Linked DNA regions of Homo sapiens: region 2 is linked to region 1. Evidence: fine-mapped QTL for protein levels in blood plasma. A gene starts in region 1. The other region holds a variant in brackets. All regions are shown on one strand. Distances are from middle to middle.

Region 1 (11,456 bases):
ACCTTGAGTTCAGAACCTCCACACAAGACCCTTTCTTAGGCCTCTTATCCCTCAGAGCTCGGGTTGTGAAGGCCCAGGCACATTAACTCATTAGCCAACACTGTGTTGGAGAATCCAGTGTAACAAAACAGAGAACACAATGGTCATGAACCACCCTGGAATTAACAAGGCTTGACCTGGAAGGTACTCTTCTGCTCACTCATTCAACCCCTCCCGTGCCCTGCCTCTCTCCATTTTACATATGAGGAAACAGACTCAGAGAGAGGAACTGAGTAGAGCCTTAAGTGAGTTATTGAGAGAGGGAAGCAAAGGACCTCTCCCACAGCAGCGGGGAGAGCATCCTTTGGGAGCTCAAACTGGGGCCAACCCCACCCCAGTCCTTGTCCCACCATCCTCTGCCAGGCCTTGCCACTCCCCTCAGTGCAGGGTCATGGGCAAGTTTGCAGTGAGAGGGGCATCACCTACCTTGATGGTGTTTGCAAGCTCCTTTGTAAGCAGCTGCTTCAGCTCACCCTTAGAGAGGGTGTCAAAATGCCCCTTCCGAACTGAGTATTGGTGGAAGATATTGACAATTCCCTCCAGATGCTCTTCAAGTTTTGTCATCTTCCCAGCCTAATGTTAACCTTCAAGGAAACAAGGGAAGTCTAGAGGCAGTTTCTCCCCCACCCCTCAACCTCCACTCTCCCCTCTCTTTCTGAATCAAGGGCCTAAAGAAAACATAACATCCTCCATATCTATTTTGTGGTCTCTGCTCTGTTTGATCCATGGTGAACTTCTCATGTGTGGATAGGATGGGGAGGAGAAAACATATAATACTGTCTAACGTCTAAAAAAATCAGCCTCAGTTGCCCATGTTCCATACCACCTCATCCACCGGGGTGCATAACTTGGAGGGTATTGCTTACTCAAGGTCCCTTGGGAAGGGTTCTGTGATTGGCCAGGCTGTTTGCTTTCCTCAGGTGATGGCACTATGGCCACATATCCCCCACAAATGGTCCATAACCCACCCCTGCTTAGCCATTCTTTTTTTGTTGTTGTTGTTTTGGGTTTTTTGTTTGTTTGTTTGTTTGTTTTTGAGACGGAGTCTCACTCTGCCGCCCAGGCTGGAGTGCAGTAGGGCGATCTCGGCTCACTGCAAGTTCTGCCTCCCGGGTTCACGCCATTCTCCTGCCCCAGCCTCCCGAGTAGCTGGGACTACAGGCACCCGCCACCACGCCCGGCTAATTTTTTGTATTTTTTTAGTAGAGACGGGGTTTCACCATGTTAGCCAGGATGGTCTCGATCTCCTCACCTCATGATCCGCCCGCCTCGGCCTCCCAAAGTGCTGGGATTACAGGCGTGAGCCACCGTACCCGGCCTGCTTAGCCATTCTTAAATCATGGGACTGAGTCTACATAGCACAACAAGAGCTGATCTACTTGGGTCCAAAATGCAATATCACCCCAGAGGTGCTCAGGCAAGTGGAGGGTTGTGGTTTCCAACACCTTGTGATTTCAAAGTGGTCACCTGCAGTCACTACCCTGTGGACCACCTAAGAACCCATCCAAGGAAAATGCACTTACCCCTCAATGCACAGGAATGTGGAGCTACAGCAAAAAGCCAGCAGTGGTGAAGGGCACTGAGCCAAGGAAGGTTTTATAATCAGTTCAGGCTTCATCTTAGCCCTTGGGTGAAGAAATCTCTGATTCATCTTGAGGCAATTTATGTAAAGTACTCTGTTGCTCAATAGAAGCTTCAAACCTGTGGCTTAGGCTGCCACAGGAGCAGCCCAGATTGTACCCAGACTGAATTTTGCCCTCCTGCTCAGCCTGAAACAAAATCACCCCCACTCCACCCACCCGCACAGGGGTGCCCTGAACCTTTTTTAGCCCTGAGCCAGGGCCCAGGTTTCAGGTTTAGCTCTACTCCACTGCTCCCTAATAAAAGACTAGGAGAACAAACTTTACAGCCTGAGTGTCTTGTTTTAACAGATGAGGTTACCAGCTCTTCAGTTTTGGCAAATGGAATATCAACTTAAAGATCTTTATGCAGCTAAGGAGATAGGTAGGGAGACCTCCTCCTAAGTCGTTCTGGGATGCAAAGTTCATCACTGGAGCAGAGGATCAGTTTTCAAAATAGATTCCAAGGTTTTCAAAAAAGGAGAGAGCAATGCTACTATGCCTCCCCTTTGCTTTCCCAACTTTCTAACTTGGCTGTTACAAAGACCTAGAAAGCTGGAGTAGGGTAATCATTGTGTGTGAAGAAAGTTCACCATGCCTAGGTTACTTTACCATGTTCATGAGTTCAGTAAGACAGAACATTCACACGAGTTTTAGTAAAGCAACTTTATTACTCACAGAGAGGCAGCAAGGGACAACAGATGCCCAGGATTCATGGAGAGGTGGTCCTTCAAGATTCAGAAACCTGCCCAAAATGGATTAAGTCTCATCTGTACATTCCCCATGTCGCACCAAAGCTAAGGGACATCCAAAAGCACTCTGCCCTTGGTTTATGCCTAGAGGTCAATAAGATTGCTGAGCAATCAAGGCCATGCCAGAACCTGTGCTGCCATCTACCCCACAACACAGATATCCCCCTTAGCAAAGCTAGTTCATTTCATGTGCCCACCGACCTCTCTGGATCTGGAGGCAAAAGTCTGTCTCTCCGATCCATGTGTCACCTTGACTGACACAATCTCAGTGCAACATTGTTAAGCCATTGACAGTATTTGTTTCACTAGGCCCAGGAGGACACCACCAGAGCAGGATGATCAGGCTTGTGTAAATCAATGACAATGACCAAGGTGAATCTCAATCATTTTAGGAGGTTTATTTGGCCAAAGTTAAGGATGCGTGCCCAGAGGTAGGTCTACGTCTTTCTCCAAAGATGATTTTGAGGGCTTCAATATTTGAAGGAGAAACAGTGGATATTGGGGGAAGAGGAAGAAATATTTTTTAAATGTGTCAGTAGATAAGAGACAAGTGATTGCATCCTTTTGAGTCTTTGATCAATCTTTCACTGAATACACAATTTTCATGTGGGAGCGGAGTAGAGGAAATAGTCACTTATGCCTTCATCTGGCTCAGTGAATCTGCATTTTTACATAAGATAACAAAAATAGGGGAGAGGAAGCAATCAGATATGGATTTGTCTTGGGTGAGCAGAGGGATGACTTTATGTTCTGCCCTTTGTCCCACACCTGTGAAGATAAGCTGTCAATTACACTGCCAGGGTGAAATTCAATAGAACTGTTTTAGGGTAAAGATCTTGAGGCTCACAAGGAATTTCCTTGTGGGCAAGTTGTGAGATTGGTGTATGGCTTTTTATCTTTGTAGCTATCTTATTTAGAAACCAACCTGGGTGGGGGCAGGCTTGCATGACCCATTTCCCAGCTTGACTTTTCCCTCTGGCTTAGTAAGTTTGGGATCCTGAGATGTTTTTTTTTTTTCACATCTGCCTGGAGAAGGGACTAGCCCAGGATCCCAGCCATCCAGGCAAGAGGTTGCTAAATGCGGATCACGAGGTCAGGAGATCGAGACCATCCTGGCTAAGATGGTGAAACCCCATCTCTACTAAAAATACAAAAAATTAGCCAGGCATGGTGGCAGGCACCTGTAGTCCCAGATACTCAGGAGGCTGAGGCAGGAGAATGGCGTGAACCCACAAGGCGGAGCTTGCAGTGAACCGAGATCGCGCCACTGCACTCCAGCCTGGGCAACAGAGTGAGACTCCCTCTCAAAAAAAAAAAATAGAAATCAAAAAAGCAGGAACACAGCCTCACATACAAATATTAACCTCCAATGTGAATGGCCTAAACACTGCACTTAAAACACATACCTTGGCAAATTCGATTTAAAAACAAGACCCATCCTTCTGCTGTCTTCAAGCACCTGTCTCATGTGTAATGACACCTGTAGATTCAAAGTAAAGGGATGGAGAAAGATCTATCATGCAAACAGAAAACAAAAAAGAGCAGAGGTTGCTATTCTTGAATCAGATCCGATAGACTGTAAGCCAACAACAGTAAAAAAGGATAAAGAAGGGCATTACATAGTGATAAAGGGTTCGATTTAACAAGAAAATTTAACCATCCTAAATAAATACACACCCAACACTGGAGCACCCAGATTTATAAAATAAGTACTTCTGCATCTAAGAAAAGATTTTGGCAGCCACACAATAATAGCAGGGGACAACACCCCACTGACATCAGTAGACAAATCATCAAGGCAGAAAACTAACAAAGAAATTATGGACTTAAATTTGACACTTGACCAATTAGACTTAATAGACATCTATAGAACAATGCACCCAACAACCACAGAATATATATTATTTTCATCTGCACATGGAACATACTCTAAGATCAACCACATGCTCAGTCATAAGGCAAATCTCAATAAATTCAAAAAAATCAAAATCATACCAAGAATCTTGGACCGCAGTGGAATAAAAATAGAAATCAATACCAAGAGGAACTCTCAAAACCACACAAATAAATGGAAACTAAACAACTTGTTCCTGACTTTTGGTTAAACAACAAAATTAAGGCAGAAATCAAAAAATTCTTTGAAACATACAAAAATAGAGACACAACACAACATATCAAAACATCTGGAATGTAGCAAAAGTAGTGTTAAGAGGGAATTTTTTTTTTCATCTTGGATGTGGGCGAATCTCATTTTAATTGCAAAAGACTTCATTCACAGCACATTCAATAATGGACCAACAGGAGAGTTGCTGGCTTTTGAACATATGAATATATAAAAATACCTTGCAACTTAGGTAGTCAAGATAATAAGTGCATAAAAGGAAAGCAATCCTCATTTTTCTGAAAACTTTTACATTTTAAAAGGTGACTAGGCATACTTGGAAGTTCAAAGCTGTAGAATGTACCTTGCAGGGGAAGAAGGAGGAAAATCCTTTCCATGTTTTTAGGTAAATATATAACAAATATATCCCAATTCCACTTGATAAAGTCAGTTGCATGACTTCCTTGAACCAGGCTAGGGCAGAACACTCAGTAAAAGCAGGCCCTGGGTGGGGATGTGAATCCTGAAGAGGAGCACCAGATCCCACGCAGCACTAAACACATCAGTTTTACCCTCTAACATAGATGAGGCACGCCGCCCCATGACCCTGGACAGGGGATGCAGGAGAACAGACATCAGGTGGTTACTGCTCCCACTGCCTGGTGCTTTCCAATGGTTTTAAGTCAGGCCATGGAGAAAATCCTTTACCACCAAACACAAACTGCCATTGAACTTGTCATAAAGGATGTTATGGGGGAAATTCTTGAAACACATACATAAGGACTTCTATTTACCTAATTAGAAAAATGATTACAGAATTGGCATTCCTGTTTTCGTAAGATTTTGTTCTCTACATTGGAAAGGTTTAAGAAAAGTTGTCTATTTTTGGTTTTATTTTACACTTTCAAAAGAGAGGGAACAGAGAGAAACGTATGACTAACTGCCCAACTTTGGGGTCCCACAGGTATGAAAGCAGACTTCTCTGACTCTAGGTCCATCTAGATTTGGGGGAAGTTTACATTCCTAGGGAGGGTTAGTGAAGCCTGTTACACCCCCAATCCTACAGAAAGTATTCTACAGCCAATCTATCACAGTGTTCTAACAAAGCATATGTTGAGGAAAACTACAGGTTTCAACCTAACATCTAAATCTTAAAAAGTAGCACTTCGGCAACAAACAAGCGCAGAGAGCTCACCTGAAAAGTGAAATAACATGACTATTGCTCAGATATCTGAAAAGTCAAGCTGCTGCCCCCAGCTCCGCCCACTCAAAGGCTTAGGCAGACACCTAGGGTGGCGGCGGCTCCTTGGCAGCACCTAGGGTGGCGGCGGCTCCTTGGCAGCACCATTCACAGTGGTATCATCATACCGGGGTAGGAGCACCTTAGTGTCATTGCTGGTAACATAAACCAGGACATCGGAGGAGTTCCTGCCGTTCATCTATCTGCAGCAGTTCCAAACACAGCTAATCAAGTAACCCTTAAAAGTTAAGATAATGCTAATAAACAGAAGAATAATAAGGACCAAACAGGTGGATTCACTGACATGACATCATCTCTGTAGGGAAAATTAGGAGGCAGTTGTCGTATGTATTCCTGAATGGAGTTTGGATAAACAAGCACAGTGATTGCAACCAAGGTGTTCAGAGCAAAATCAAAGATCTGGTAACAGGGCCAGGTGCGGTGGCTCACGCTTGTAATCCCAGCACTTTGGGAGGCCGAAGGGGGTGGATCAGGAGGTCAGGAGATGGAGACCACGGTGAAACCCCGTCTCTACTAAAAATACAAAAAATTAGCCGGGCGTGGTGGCTGGCGCCTGTAGTCCCAGTTACTCGGAGAGGCTGAGGCAGGAGAATGGCGTGAACCCGGGAGGTGGAGCTTGCAATGAACTGAGATCGCACCACTGCACTCCAGCCCGGGCGACAGAGCGAGACTCCGTCTCGGAAAAAAAAAAAAATCTGGTAACAGAAGAATGGGATGATCCAGAATGCGTGTTGCCTGTATGCTTCGTAATTAGCCTTAATTACGTAATTAGCCTTAATTCTCATGATATCAGTATCATGAGAAGAGAAATCGCAATGGCAATGCACGTATTGGCGTCATCCATGAACTCAAAATCACCTCCCAGTTCAGAACTTGAAAAGTGATACTGATCCGGATCAGCCAGGGCACTCAACAAAATCAGGAGTACCACGGCGTTGATGATCAGGTACCAGACACCTAACAGGATGGTGCTGGTGCGGACATGGAGGCACAGGCAGCAGCTGTTGGAGTAGAACCGCATCCAGGGTGCGACCAGGGCGTGACCATCGTCATTGCTCCTGGAGCAGAGGCGCGAGGACGAGCCCAAGTTTCCAGGAGCGTTGACCTCCTCGCCCAGACTCCGCCACGCGGCTGCTGCAGACTCCTCGGCTGCTCCGGCTTCCGGCCCGCTCACCGGTGTGCCCGCCAGCCTCGCTCCTCTATCCTCCCAAGAGGGAATTTTATAGCGCTAAATGCCTATATCAAGCGGGGTGGGAGGAGGGGGGAGAGATAGCATTAGGAGATATACCTAATGTAAATGACGAGTTAATGGGTGCAGCACACCAACATGGCACATGTATACATATGTAACAAACCTGCACATTGTGCACATGTACCCTAGAACTTAAAGTATAATAAAAAATATATATATATAAAGAAGATATTAATAGAAAGATCTCAAATTAACAACCCAACCTCCACCTAAAGTAATTAGAAAAACAAGAACAACTAAGCTCAAAGCTAGCAGAAGAAAAGAAGTAACTAAAATAAGAGCAGAACTAAGTGAATTGAGACCCAAAAAGCCATACAAAGGATCAGTGAAAGGAAAACTTGCTTTTTTGAAAGGATAAACAAGATTGATAGACCATTAGCTAGATTAACAAAGAAAACGAGAGAAGATCGAAATAAACACAATCAGAAATGACAAAGGTGACATTACAACCGATTCCACAGAAATACAAGAGATCCTCAGAGATATGAACCTCTCTATGAGTACAAACTAGAAAATCTAGAGGAAATCAATACATTCCTGGAAACACAACCTCCCAAGACTGAGTCAAGAAGAAATAGAATTTCTGAACAGACCAATAACAAGTAATGAAAATAAATCAGTAATAAAACACCTACCAACAATAGCAACAACAAAAAACCCTGTATCAGACGGATTCATAGTCAAATTCTACTAGATCTACAAAGAAGACCTGGTATCAATCCTAAAGAAACTATTACAAAAAATCAAGGAGGGACTCCTCCCTAACTCATTCTATGAAACCAATATCCTCATGACACCAAAATTTGGCAAAGGCACAACAAAAAAAGAAAACTACAGACCAATATCCCTGATGAGCATAGACATAAAACTCTTCAACAAAATACTAGAAAACCAAATACAGCAGCATATCAAAAAGTTGATTTCCCAAATAAGTGGGCTTTATTCCTGGAATGCAGGGATGGTTCAACATATGCAAATAAATACATGTGATTCACCACATAAACAGAATTAAAAACAAAAACTATATGATCATCTCAATCAATGCAGAAAAGCATTCAATAAAAATTCAACATTTCTTCATGATGAAAGCTCTCAATAAAATAGACATCAAAGAAACATACCTCAAAATAATAAGAGCCATCTATGACAAACCCACAGTTGACATCATACTGAATAAGCATAAGTTAGGTGCATTCTGCCTAAGAACTGGAACAAGACAAGGATGTCTACTCTCACTATTCCTATTCAACATAGTACTGAAAGTCCTAGCCAGAGCAATTAGACATGAGAAAGAGATAAAAGGAACCCAAATTGAAAAAGAGCGAATTACTTCTTTTCACTGACAATATGATTCTATGTCCAGAAAACTCTAAAGATTCTTCCAAAAGACTCCTAGACCTGATAAACAACTTCAGCAAATCTCAGAAAACAAAATCAACATAGAAAAATCAGTAGCATTTCTATACACCAATAATATTCAAGCTGAGAACCAAATCAAAGATGCAATTCCATTTACAACAGCCACACACAAAAAATAAAATACCTAAGAAAATATCTAACCAGCAAAGTGAAAGACCTCTACAAAAAGAACTACAAAACACTGCTACAAGAAATCATAGATGACACAAACAAATGAAAAAGCATGCCATGCTCATGGATTGGAAGAATTGATATAGTTAATAAGTCCACATTGCCCAAAGCAATCTATAGATTCAATGCTATTCCTATCAAATTACCAAGGTCATTTTTCACACAACTTTACAAAACTCGTCTAAAATTCATATAGAAGCAAAAAGAGCACAAATAGCCAAAGCAATCTTAAGCAAAAAAGAATATAACCAGAGGTACCACATTACCCAATTTCAAACTACACTACAAGTCTACAGTAACCAAAACAGCATGGTATTGGTACAAAAATAGACACATAGACCAATGGAACAGCATGGAGACCACTGAAATAAAACCACATACCTACAACCAACTGACCTTGAACAAGGCTGGCAAAAATAAACAATGGGGAAAGGAAATCTTATTCAATAAATGGTGCTGGGGAAACTGGCTAACCATATGCAGAAGAATGAAACTGGACCCTTACCTCTCACCACATACAAAAATTAACTCAAGATGGATTAAAGACTTAAATGTTAAGACCTTAAACTATTAAAATCCTGGAAGAAAACCTAGGAAATACTCTTCTAGACATGTTCTAGGCAAAGAATTTATGGTTAAGTCCTCAAACGCAATGCAACAAAAACGAAAACTGATATGGGACCTAATTAAACTAAAAAGCTTCCACGCAGTGAAAGAAACTAATAACAGAGTAAACAGACAATCTACAGAATGGGAGGCAATATTCACAAACTATGCATCTGACAAAGGGCTAATACCCAGAATCTATAAGGAACTCAAACAACTTAACAAGAAGAAAACAAATAACCCCATTAAAAAGTGGGCATAGAACATGAACAGACATTTCTCAAAAAGAAACACAAGTAGCCAACAAACATGCAAAAACTAATCATCAGAGAGATGTGAATCAAAACCACAAGAAATATCATCTCACATCAGTCAGGATGACTATTATTTAAAAGTCAAAAAAATAACAGTTGTTGGCAAGGTTGGAGAGAAAAAGGAATGATTATATACTGTTGGTAGAATGCAAATTAGTTCAGCATTTTGGAGATTTCTCAAAGAACTAAAAATAGAATTGCCATTCAACCCATCAATCCCGTTACTGAGTATATACCCAAAGGAAAAGACACCTGCACTAGTATGTTTATCAAAGCACTATTCACATTAGCAAAGACATGGAATCTACCCAGGTACCTATCAATGGTGGGTTGGATAAAGAAAATGTAGTACATATATGTCATATATGTCAATACTATGAAGCATAAAAAAGAACACTATCATGTCCTTTGCAGCAACATGGATGCACCTGGAGGCCATTACGCTAAGTGAATTAATGTAGAAACAGAAAACCAAATACCAGAATTTCTCACTTATATGTGAGAGCTAAACACTGAGTACACACAGACAAAAAGATGGGAGTGGTAGACACTGGGGATTCCAAAAGGAGGGAGGGCAGGAGGGGCACCAGGGTTGAAAAGTTACCTAACAGGTACTATGTTCACTATTTGGGCAATGAGATCATTCGCAGCCCAAGCCTCAGCATCATGCAATATACCCATGTAACAAACCTGCACATGTATATCCTGAATCTAAAATAATTTTTTTTTTTTACAAAAAGGCCAAAGAAGGATCCTTCAGATGGCCTCACTGTTTGAAACCAACGGGCTGGGTCTGCCTGTGGATCCCTTCCCCTGTGTCTGTACAATCCCTGAGGTGTTTACTCAGGTACAGCAGGAGGTGTTGGCAACAACCAAAGGCCACTCTGCTCTGCCAGCAGATGATCAGAGGCTGTTCAGGTGTTCATCACCAGCTTAGTTAATGCATTCAGTGAGTCTCACTGGTCCTAAATAGTCCAGGTGGTAGCATTAGTTGTCACTGACGTAGTCAATGACAAGTTGGGTACCATTTTTCCCAGGGCATGTACACCTATGCCAAGTAGGAGGACACAGACAGCAAAATGGAATCAGCTATCAGAATGCCTTCCTGGCAGAGTATGTCAGGCAACCTTGCAATGTCAGAAGCCCTTCCAGCTTACGGTGTCATTTTGCACAAACACTTGAGGACCCCAAATTCCAAAACAGCATGCTCTATCTAAGGGTGACAGGTATTCTGCAGTATATCCCACAAAGGAATATACTAGCCAGGGGAGCACGTGTAACTCCGGTCAGGGAACTGTCACTATAAAAGTCTCTAGTTGAAGTGTACAAAGCCTGTGTCAGATTTAGCCATGAGTTACATGGCAAGGTAAACTGCATGATGAGCCTGCTTTCCCATACCATTGACCATGTTTAAAATCTGTCTGATTTTATGTCTATGTTCTAGGTAACCTGCATTGAGGCCATCACTCTCCAATCAGAACCACCGATGGCTGTTGGGGCCCCATTCAAATTGGCAACAGGCCACAGATTGACTATTCCAGCATGGAGATGCCCTGAGTACATGGGTGGCTGATTCAGCAGTGTTTTAGATCACAGGGGAATTTCCAAATCTAAGACTGGAAGGAAAGCTCCTCCGCCCAGGGAAGAAGACAGAATTGTTACTGGGGCAACCCCTAAGAGTTTAGGGCAATCAAAATGCCCAATCCTCTTGCTCTATACATAGGGAGATTATCTTTGCCTAGAGGATTGCTCACACCAGGAAAAAACTACCAGTCCTTCAGGCCCTGAGGTGTGCCAGGTAAAGTCCTGGGCAAGGAAAAGTGGCCCAAGAAAGAAGCTCATCTGGTACCTCCTCTCCCTACTCCTCACTCTGGACAGCAGAGACCCTATAGGGGATGAGGAGAAAGAGGCCAGGCAGGCAG
Region 2 (11,456 bases), 15 kb before region 1:
AGAGCACAGATAAAGCCAAATGCCAATAAGTGCCTGGAAGAAAATGAGATAGAGTGCGCTGTGGGCAATGGGGCTGGGTGGGGTGGAGGTGACCAGTTAGGGTACATGAGAAGGGCCTCTTTGAGGAGGTAACATTTGAGCTGAGCCCCGAATGTTGGGGAGGGAAGCCCCTGAGGATGACACTTGGCACAAAGCTGAGGAGACCCTAAGCCTCAGGCGGGAACTTGGGGTGGAAGACTTGGGGGCTTTTCTAATCCTAAGGGTCTGCGGTGGAAAATGAATGCATAAAGAGCACATGGAGAGCACCTGCACAGCACTCAGGGAACTGGGAGGTTTTTCCCCCGCTCCAAAAATGATTAGGCAGTTCTAAGAAAAAGGCTGAGCACTTCCAACAGCCTTTTTGTTTTCTTTTCAAATTTGGGGAAAGTCGGGAAACAGAGGCCTGCATTAAGAAGGGTGGAACACATGGGTCTCAGTCTCAGTTCCAGTCCCGGAGCCAGACATCCTGGGGTAGGTCCCCAGCCCTCCCAGTGCCCCTCCCTCCGCCTTGGTAAGGTGGAGAATTGCAGCCTTCAGAGTTAGGGGCCCTGACAGCTCTCCATAGGTGGAGGCCTCAGGCAGGCAGGATGCTGGGTGGGGTAGGCAAGAAAGGGCCCAGCAGAGAGGCCGCATGGCAAAACTATCCTCCATGTGACCCCCTATGCCCGCTTCACCCCCCACCTGACATCCCCCACCAGAAGCAAAGCGATGCTGTGGGAAAGGAAGCAGAGCCTCATGGATGGGCTGCACAGGAGAGTGCTCGCATTGGCTGGGTACCCCACAGGTTCTGGGAGGGGACTTAGCGAGGTGACTCAGCCAGAGGGTGGCAGAGCTGGAACCAACCAGTGCTCTCTTGGACCCCGCCTGGGTCTGGGTCTTCCACCTCCCCTGATGTCTCTCCTTTTTTTTTTTTTTTTTTTTTTTTTGAGACAGAGTTTCGCTCTTATTGCCCAGGCTGGAGTGCAACGGCACAATCTCGGCTCACCACAACCTCCACCTCCTGGGTTCAAGCGATTCTCCTGCTTCAGCCTCCAGAATAGCTGGGATTACAGGCATGCACCACCATGCCTGGCTAATTTTGTTATTTTTTGTAGAGACAAGGTTTCTCCATGTTGGTCAGGCTGGTCTCGAACTCTTGACCTTAGGTGATCTGCCTGCCTCGGCCTCCCAAAGTGCTGGGATTACAAGCATGAGCCACCCTGTCCGACCATCTCCCCTTTTATACTTTATCACACCCTTGAGGTCAGCGGAGCACATACTCTGCTCTCTGACCCTCCATCTCCCCTGCCCACACCTAGTTTTTCTAGGTGTTTCCCCGTTGTATTGGTTGAAATAAGTTTCACTAATTGGTAACCTCCAGAGGGAAGGGAAGGGAGGGCAGGGGAAGGAGTGAAGTGCAGAGGGGTAGCAGAGTGGAACTGGCCTCTAAGTCAGATCTGAATTTGCATGCCCTCAATAGTCAAGCTGTGAAAACTAATGACCCTCTCTAGGACTGGTTTCAAGTCTTCCTCCAGGAAGATACCATTCCTAGCTGTTAAAGTTGTTATAAGGACCAAATGAGGTGACATTTCCAGGCTTACTCATGCCATGACCAGGGCAAGACCCTGGAACTCAGCTTCCTCTTCTATAAATAGAGAATCAGCACCCAAGTCACAGGGTCATGGAGGGAATAAACTGGAGAGCGTTTGGTATGTGCTCAGTGTCTGCTCCATTGTGCGCACTCAGCCTATGGTCATTTTTAATTTTTAAATCCAGCCCCAGGGTGAGGCTTCCCTTGTACATTTGCCAGCTGGTCATTTACTGTGCTCCCAGTCCCCACCTCTGGCCACACCCAGCTCTCACAGCCTTCTCTCCCCACCCGCAGAAGGAGAATAAGAATGAAAAGGTCATAGAACACATCATGGAGGACCTGGACACAAATGCAGACAAGCAGCTGAGCTTCGAGGAGTTCATCATGCTGATGGCGAGGCTAACCTGGGCCTCCCACGAGAAGATGCACGAGGGTGACGAGGGCCCTGGCCACCACCATAAGCCAGGCCTCGGGGAGGGCACCCCCTAAGACCACAGTGGCCAAGATCACAGTGGCCACGGCCACGGCCACAGTCATGGTGGCCACGGCCACAGCCACTAATCAGGAGGCCAGGCCACCCTGCCTCTACCCAACCAGGGCCCCGGGGCCTGTTATGTCAAACTGTCTTGGCTGTGGGGCTAGGGGCTGGGGCCAAATAAAGTCTCTTCCTCCAAGTCAGTGCTCTGTGTGCTTCTTCCACCTCTTCTCCAACCCTGCCTTCCCAGGGCTCTGGGCATTAGACAGCCCTGTCCTTATCTGTGACTCAGCCCCCTCATTCAGTATTAACAAAATGAGAAGCAGCAAAACATGGGTCTGTGCTGGGCCCCTTGGGCTCACCTCCCTGACCATGTCCTCACCTCTGACTTCAGGCCCCACTGTTCAGATCCCAGGCTCCCTGCCCCATCTCAGACACCCTGTCCAGCCTGTCCAGCCTGACAAATGGCCCTTGTCACTGTACACTGTAGAAAGCAAAAAGGCATATCTCTACCCCTTGATATGCCTGCTACCTCACCAACCAGCCCCAAGCCTGTCTTCACCCATCACTGTCTACACAGCCCTCTCTCTCTCCTAACAGAATTCTATTCCTCTGAAAGTCTTCCAGAAATGGACCTAGATAGTGCCATGTCTGGGGAGGAATACTGGCACCCAGGCAGTGGAAACAAGGACAGATCCGGTGTGTTTACTCTCACACTTTTTCTGGATCCAAGAGAGCAATTGGATCTCTCTTAACAGACCTGCCACCCTAATCAACGGGAGTGCTCACACAAGTGGGAGTCTGAGAGCTTAGCCCTATGCCCACCCTGGTCTCAACAGAATGGCAGAGTGAAGAAATGAGCTCCAGTCCGGGCTCTGCAGCTAAAAGACTCCGTGACTACCAGGAGGAGTCTGTGCTCTGGGTCCAGAGAGCCTGGGGGTCTGAAGATTCTGATTTTAAGCTTTGAGGGCCAGCTGTCCTTTCTGGTGGGTAGCTGAGAGCTGGGCCCAGCACAAGTATCTGCTTCTCTCTGCAAAGCCTACTACCAGGCCTGGCCCTAGCTGCCTCAGGGCTACTGCTGCAGCTCCCCCTTCAAGCTGCCCCAGATCCAAGTGCTCAGTTCAGGGACTCCTCTGCCATCTTCCTGCCCTTTGGCTATAAAGTCCCTTTCCTAGGTTATAACCAGTGGGGTTTGGCCTTCCAAAAACCAGAGTCCAGATCAAGGTCCTCTGACCCCTGTCCTTTCAGCAGAAAGAAGACTCACAGAATTAGGATCTGGGGAAGCTGGGAAGACTAGCAGTCACCTACTCTCCCTTTTCATAAGTGAAGAAACCGAGGTGTAATATGGAGAAGAGACTAGTCCAAAGTCACACAAATGACAGAGTTGCTCAAAATAATGCAGTACGAAAAGTAGCTTGAATCATATCTGCCCCACTGGCTGCACCTCCCCAGCCCCTTCCCCAGTGCAGAGCAGGAAGATATAGAGCTGCCAGTGTTGGATTTCAGCCCTCCCCTCACAGCCTGGCTATGGTTGTGCCCCCAACCTGCCTGTTGCAGACTCCTGCTTTAAGGGCCTGGGGGCTCCGCTCTGGGTGCAGGGTTTTAAGGGCTCCCACTCGAGGGTATGAGGATGTTTCCAGGAACTGTCTCAGGCTGAGAGCTTAGGCAGCAGAGTCTAGAAGCCCTCCTCAGTCCCTTCTGTGCCTGACTTGGAGACCTGACAGCTGGGGACACTCATTTTCTGACAGCCCTTCTGCTCCCATGCTCACATCCAGGGAGGAGTCACTGTCTTCACTCCCTTCTGAACACAGCTTGGTAATGAGGAGAGAGAAGCATCCTGGGGATTGGAGGGCCTTAGACCAGATGCTTCCAGTAGGGTGGTAAGTGCTCCCCCTAGGCCCTCTGCCCACCACTACTTATCACAATGTGCCTAAATATGTTTATGACTCTGCCTACCCCTCCAGACTGATAACTCCAAGAGAGCAAAGTCCATCTGTTTTTTTTTTCTGATTTATTCTCAGCACCTAGAGTAGTGGCTGCTACATAGAAGGTTCTCAGCAAATATTGCCTGTATAATGGCCTAGGTTTCTCACGTGTTCTATGCTCTCTTCTCAAGGGATGATGTGGAGAAAAAAAAGCAAGAGGAGATCAAAACCTGCAAATGGAAGGCTTCTGCATTAGCATTACAGAATCTCAAACCTGAAGGTAAGGAGCAGCAAGTTGATGGAATCGGAGGGCCCCTCCACCCCCTGTTCAATCAGACCAATTTGATTTGAAGGAAGAGATTTGTCTTGAAAAAAGTGTGAAAACTATGGACTTAATCCAATCTGCCCCACCCACACTCTAGAGTGATTCTTGCCAACATCCCTGCCAAGTGACTGAACCAACCCTGCCTGAATTCCTCCAGGAAAGGAGAGTTTCCCCCTTTGGGAGTGACACTTGGAATGTCCCTCATTATACTGAGCTGAAATCCATCTCCTCATGCCCACCCAGCATTAGTCCTACTTTTCCTCCCCTTTGAGGACACAGAACAAATCTAACCCCTTATCATCCATCCTCCCATCCACATGTTTATTCCTCCACTTCTTCAAAACGCCTTCCCTAAATTACATCCAGGCTTTCTCCAGCCTCTTCACCTTTGCACCAAAAATGCTGTGCTCCATCCTGGTGTCTCTTGTAAGTCCCTTAGGATCCATCAAGCCTTGGAACAAGTGTTACTGCTTCCTCACCATCCACCCTTCTCAAGAAGATAGGGACTTCCTCCTCCAGGCCCACAGAACTCTGACAATTCCACCATTGCACTTCAAATACTGAATGGCAAATACTCATTTGCCAAGACTATGAACCCCTGAAAGCAGGGACTATAGCTGATTTTCCCCCACATTCAAGATCCCAGCATGGACCATCCACTTGTTCATCCACAAAGTGAAGATAGGATGGTTCTAGAGCAGAAATGGGTGCTTTGCTCGAATGTGGGTGTGAGGTAGGAGTGGCTCTCAGGAACTGGGGTTGGGGGTGCCAGCTGTCTGGAGACCTGGGGCTGGCAGAGAGCAGAGCAGCTGAGTGGCAGGATGACCCAGAGACCTCCTCAGGTAACAAGGATTCTTCCATTTACCTTGTCTCTAGTAACTCAGTCTGCATGTAGGCAATTGTTTCAGACCCTGGGGGAAGGTCTGACAACAAGCCACTTGCACCCTGCGGAATTTTCTTTAAACGTAGTTGAACAGAACTCATCAAGGTGACTTAACCTCTTCATTCCCATTAGCCTCTTTCATTTCAAAAAAAAAAAAAAAAAAAAAAACCTCATTCTGCTGAGTAGAGCAGAGTGGGCTTCTTTTCTCAGATAGAGAGAGCAAGCATGTCCATGTCCATGTCAAGGTTAAGATTCCCACTCCAAGTGGAAATCAGTAGCTATCTCTGTGATTAATGAGTCCTTTGGGGAAACATGACCTTTGGGGACTTTCCCAGCACCATGGTGACTAAAGAATCAGAGACAACCTGTCTTCAGATGACTATCCAACAATTCCTGCAACAATGAGTTGCCCTCCAGGCTGGTGTTAGCAGTGGAACCTGAACTGCTAGATGCCTTCCTGGGAGGAATGAGGAAGGATCAGAAGTAGTCTAAGCTGCTAAACTCTTCCCAGACACTTCACAGTGCTCTGAATGTGGTCTGGGGCCTGGGTGGTGGTGGGATGGCTCCAGAACTTGGGGGAGAAATGAATTCACTTGTCCACTCACTTGTATGTCCCTTCATTCACTCAACAGACATTAACTGCAGACTTACTATGTGTCAGGCACAGTATAATGCTGAGGGGCCTTCATGATAAATAAAGCTTGTCCATGTTGTCAAAGAGTTCTCGGGCCTGCAGGGAGACAAGACAGCTCCTCAAATTAATCTGATGTGGAAAATGAGAGGCCAGGGAGGTCCAGCTAAAAGATTTCGGTGGGATGTAGCTCGGTGGGACTTTGAGGTGGGAATGATGCCCTTCACTGGGGCCATCTCCATGGAGGGGTAAGTATCAGTGTGACATCAAGGCTGGTACCTGGAGACATCCCGGGATAAACATGAAGGTGCTTCAGGAGACCATGTATGCAAAGGCCTGGAAATGGGCAGGCGTGGGGTTTGAGGGCGAATGAGGAGCACTGGGGGCGTGGCAGGGAGAGGTAAGAGAGACAGATGAGAACAGGATAGGTACCAGGCCAAGGAACTCACACTCCATTCAGCAGAACAGGGGCAGAGCCCCGAAGGCTTCAGGGAGGGCAATGATATAATCACATTTGCATTTCATAGAAGTTTCTCTATCTGTGTTTTATGGGATGGGTTTGGGGTGGGAATGAGACCCCAGGCACATGGCCTGTGGGGAGTCTGTTGCAAGAGCCCAGGTGAGCACTTAAGAGTCCAAGCGGTGCTTCTCAGAAAAAGTAAAGCTAGAGCCTCAAACTACCCCAAGCTTCACCTCAATTAGGAGAGGTGTGACTGCAACATGATAAATAAGATCATTTCATGCTGTTTGCCAAGACCTTTCCAGGAAGGAAGATCTCAGCTTTCACCAGCCCGGTGAGCCAACCTTACACAACCCTGATGCAGCCCTGCCCTGAAGTAAGCTCCATAATCCAACCCCAATGCACTGCCCCCTCTTCC[G/A]GCAGTTGCTTAAAACATATATTTTAGAAAGCCCCGTGTCATGGATTTTGACACTCCAATTACCAAAGTGACAGCAGGACTGAAACAACTGGTTTCTCAAGTCCTATTGCCCCTTGGGGCTCTGACCTGAAACAGTTTCTCTATCCTAAGACGACAATCAGTCCCTGGATGATTAGATCACCCCTGTCTTCAGAGATCCACTCCCAGACACAGGAGACAGGGAAAGGGAGCCCCTGAGCGACAGCCAGCTGGCCTCCATCCTGAGTGTCCCACGGAATGCAGAGTCCCAACTAAACACAGAGCACCGCTATTGGTGCTGGCTCAAAACAACTACATCTAGGCTTTCCTTTTCTGCATGAGTTCTCCCACTCTTGCCCACGTACCCAAAATTGCTGCATGCAGACTGTACAGTGAGGAAGGGGTTTGTTGCCAAGACCCGAGGTGAAGAGGAAGAGGAGGGTGGCCACCAGCAGGGGCGGCAGGGGCAGCAGGATTCCAGCATGCAGCCCGCACCTTCAGCATCCCCCGCCTTGACTTGGAGTCTGATCCTCCCTCCTCTCCCCTGCCTCTCCCCCAACCTTTTCCCTCTTGATTTGCCCCCTCTCTTTCTCTCTTTACCTTTTCTACATCCTCTCCCTGAGCTTTTTCTCACTTACTGCCTTCTGCCCTCCTGTCCTCTGTGGTAAAATGCAGTTCTATGTGGCTGAGTGCTTTCAGGGAAGCAACTAGGGGTCATATCTAACCTTTGTGAAGTAACTACGGGTCATATCTAACCAGAAATGGCTCCCTCAAAACACAAGATGTCCCAGTTTCGAGTCTACTCCTCATAATGAAAGGAGACAATCACAAGGGAAAATTGTTGAAGGTCTTGGGGAATCAAGTCTGGAAAAGGTAAGCAAGGGAGCCATGACAGCTGCCTTCAAATATCACCAGGGTCCAGGGAGAGGAGCCCACCCCCGGGGGCAAGGCCTCCAAACCCGCTGTGGTGTGGCTCATTTGCTGCCAGGCCCTCCCACTCTCCCAGCACTGCCTCAAGCATCGCCCTCGCATTCTACTCCAGGTGTTCATTCCCTCTGGTAGGAAACAGCTCCATGCAAAGAAGCCAACATTCATCAGCTATTCAGTCTGCAAATACTCATTGAGTGAGAACTAAATGCAGAGCACTGTTATAGGTGCTGGGTCAACAAAACTGCGTCTAGGGGAGAGTCAGACAAGAGGCAAGTCAAGAAATAGATAGCCCAGATCATTTTAGATGGTGATGAGTTGCACAAAGAAAATAAAGGGGACATGCTAACAGGACTGCTTTGTGGGCCGGCAGCCAGGCAAGGAAGCAACACTGGAAATGAGGCCTGGATGACAAGAAGCCATCTCAACGAAGATTTCACCCCAAACACATTGGAGAGCCTTTGGAGGGTTTTAATCAGGCAGGTGATGTGATATGATGTATCTGGAGGAGAATATTCGGCAGCTGTGTGGAGGGTAGCCTGGAGAACCCCAGAGTAGAAGCATGAGGACCAGTTAGGAGGCTGATGAGCCTGGTCTTATGTCAAATAGTGTGCTAGATTCCCTGCCTTCACAGAGCCCTCAGTCCAGTGGGGGCACAATTACCAGATATTTTCTCTATAATACAATGTTGTGGGCAAAAGACAAGCAAAGGCAGATGATAAGCACAAGATGCCCAGAGAGTACAGAAGGCACTTTTTGCCGTCTTATTGGCTGTGGTGTGGGGGAGGGGGTAGAGGGGAGCCGGGGGGCAGGGGTAGAGGGAAGGAGAGAGAAGGAAAGCTTGCTTGGACTAATGCCCAAGCTGAGTTTTCAGAGGGCAAGAATTGCACTTCCATGTGCCCAGTGCTGTGTTAGGCAATAAAAGAAATCAGAGAAACATAGGAAGTAAGGGCTCTTGCCCTCCAGATTTTTAGTTTGCTTTATCTTAAAACTTGAAAGGCTTCTTGTGTTGGCCAAGTCAAAATGATGAGACCTAGCCATTCTCACATCAGGGGCTTCTGATAGTCATTTTGTTGAGCCCAGATCCTTCTCCTGAGCTCCAAGAGCCTGATGCACAGGCTGGCATGGCTTGGCTTGTGGTGTACTGGAAGCCTGCCTGAAATATCCTCCTGAGGGCAAAGTATTGCACATATAGCACCCAAAAGAGTGTTATTGGTGTCCTTTATCACTCAGTAATGCCTTTGCCCAGACAGCTTTGTCAGGCTCATCATTCCAGCAGCAGCCAGTGAGCAGAAGAGGGAGGTCAGCCCCAAATTGGAAGGGGCCTAAAGTCTACTCTTGATGGAAATACATGAGGAAGATATGAACAGGTGAGCTCCCTGGAGGATGTGACGGTTGAGTCAGGCCATGGTGTATAAGCAGGTGTTCTAGAGCCAGAGAAGGGCCCAGGTAGCCTAGTGTCTGCAACAGAGCAGACACAAAAAAATGTTTGTGAATGAAGGGATGAAAAGGCACTTCAGACAAAGAGAACAAGAGGACAGCAGGAGCAAAACCCAAGAAGTTTCAAAGCCGTGGAGAAACTAGAGACTGTTCTAGAGTGGCTGGAGAATAGGGCCTCTGGGGGTGGACAGATGGTGACAGTGAGACAGGGCCTCCAGAAGCAACAGGGCCAATCCCTGGGCTCTGTGGATCTAACAGTGCTTGTGTTCATTTGCTTGTTCCACGACACCAGCCACAGTCACAGGGTCTAGTCTCTGTGTATTCATGAAGGGACTGGAGATCACTTGTGCAAACAGCACACTATATACATGAAAAAACTGAGGCTCAGAGAAGGGAAGCCATTCGCCCAAACTCACAGAGCCAAGCAGTTGAGCTGGGAGTCTAACCAAGCTCATTTGATTCCAAGTCAAGGGCCCTTGTCATTGTCCTTAGGTGCCGCTGACTGATGGATTTTGACCAAGGTTAGCAGCCCTTAAAATTTTTCTAGCCATGATTTAAGTTCAATTTGTGGTTCAGTGGGCTATTTGGAAACAAAATTACAGCTGGTGAATGTTTTCACAATAGCAAATGTGCTGGACTTTTGCTCTCATCGGTTAGTTGTTGGTTTTTTTGTTGTTTTTTTTTTTAACAGATTCTAATACTACTATATATATCAGAAGTGGTCCCAAATCAAGGTAAGTGCATCAAGGGAGTGGCCTAGTTTGCAGAACAGCTTGGTCTAGTTCAAAGGCCTTTAGAGGAAGATATTGCATAACTTCCCTTGGTTCCTTATCTTACACTGGTCAACTTTAACTATCCAAGCCACCCCTAAATATAACCTCAGTCTGCTTTGGTTTAAAATAATCTATACCTATTGTGCTGTGGCAGAGGGTGGGTCAGCTACAATCGTTACCTCCTGTCTAAATTATTATCTTACTGTTATTGCTAATGTTTGTTGAGTGCTTACTCTGCATCAGATACTGTGCCAAGTGCTTTCCATGTGCTATGAGATGACCTAATCTTGGCCAGTCGCATGGCTTACGCTTGTAATCCCAGCACTTTGGGAGGCCGAGGCAGGCAGATCACGAGGTCAGGAGATCGAGACCATCCTGGCTAACGCGGTGAAACCCCGTCTCTACTAAAAATACAAAAAAATTAGCCTGGTGTGGTGGCGGGCACCTGTAAACCCATCTACTCGGGAGGCTGAGACAGGAGAATGGCGTGAATCCGGGAGGCGGAGCTTGCAGTGAGCCAAGATCGCGCCACTGCACTCCAGCCTGGGAGACAGAGCAAGACTCCATCTCAAAAAATAAAAAAATAAAAAAAGGAAAAAAAGGAGATGACCTAATCCTCTCACCAACTCTGGGAGAGGGGTGCTGTGGTTATCCCCATGCTACTGATGGGGAAATTGAGGTTTAAAGATTCTAAGTAACTTGTTCAAGGTCTCACAGTTAGTAAGTGGCAATGCTAGGATTTGAATACAGAAGCATAACTTCTAGCCTCACACTCTCGACTGCTACTCTTTAGCACCAAGGGACATCCTCCTTCCTACCCTCTCACTAAGTGATGTTCTCCTTCTAGACCCTGCACCAAGTTCCCCTCTATCCAACTGAGGTCTCTCAGAGCACTAACACTGGGTGACACCTGAGTATTCACCTAGTCTAAAACTTTCCAAAATAGATGTTTAAAATTCCTTTGAATTCTTCAAAAATAAAGAAAACACAGACCCAGAGAGGCAAAGTGATTTGGCCAAGGTCATGCAGTGAGGGAAGGCTTTCCCCAAATGCTCTCACATTCTCATTCACATTTGGTGATAGAAGCCTTCCAGGCTTGGGCCATTCCAGGACTCCCTTCCCTGGGTCACACATTCCTTCCTTTTCTGCCAATCCCACTTCACCCCCATCTTCAGGCTCTCCCCTCAACCCCATCTACAGGCTTCTACTTTCTCGCACACTTTCCACACAACTGCAATTGTTTCCTTTGATGGGGGTGGTCAGCAAAGCTTCACCCCAAGACCATGTGCCCAGGACTCATCATTTGTCACTTGTCCTGAATCCCAGCTTCCCATACACTGTCTCCACATGGCTTCACAGTAAATAAGCCGAAAGTCAAACCCACTCTCCTGCAGTAAAAAGCCCCCTTTCCCACTTTTCCTCACATCTGTCTTGCCTGACCTCCAGCAGGGTATCTAACCTTTCTAAAATTCTTCAATTTTGCCACCTGGCCTGCCCCTGCTGCTGAAGAAGATCCAGAGGTGGAACAGGAATTAAAAGAAATTAAAGAATGTGTAAGCAGAAACTCAGTTG

Evidence for each region. PIP is the posterior inclusion probability: the model's chance that the variant is causal. Sun 2018 read protein levels with aptamers (SomaScan).
Region 2: its variant is fine-mapped to the plasma level of the S100A12 protein (Sun 2018, PIP 0.95).

The regions. Positions count from the first base shown.
Region 1 is chr1:153,373,990-153,385,445 of GRCh38, forward strand. It overlaps S100A12 (S100 calcium binding protein A12), which reads right to left and starts at 1,632. Exons shown (of 3, transcript NM_005621.2): 1 at 1,563-1,632; 2 at 466-623. The coding sequence starts at 603. It also overlaps the pseudogene LAPTM4BP1. RefSeq lists a silencer at 6,395-6,565.
Region 2 is chr1:153,358,741-153,370,196 of GRCh38, forward strand. It overlaps S100A9 (S100 calcium binding protein A9), which reads left to right. Exons shown (of 3, transcript NM_002965.4): 3 at 1,904-2,283. The coding sequence ends at 2,098. Among named protein-coding and RNA genes, the nearest start is that of S100A9, 6.6 kb to the left of the region's middle. The variant G/A (reference allele first, on the strand shown) is at 6,727.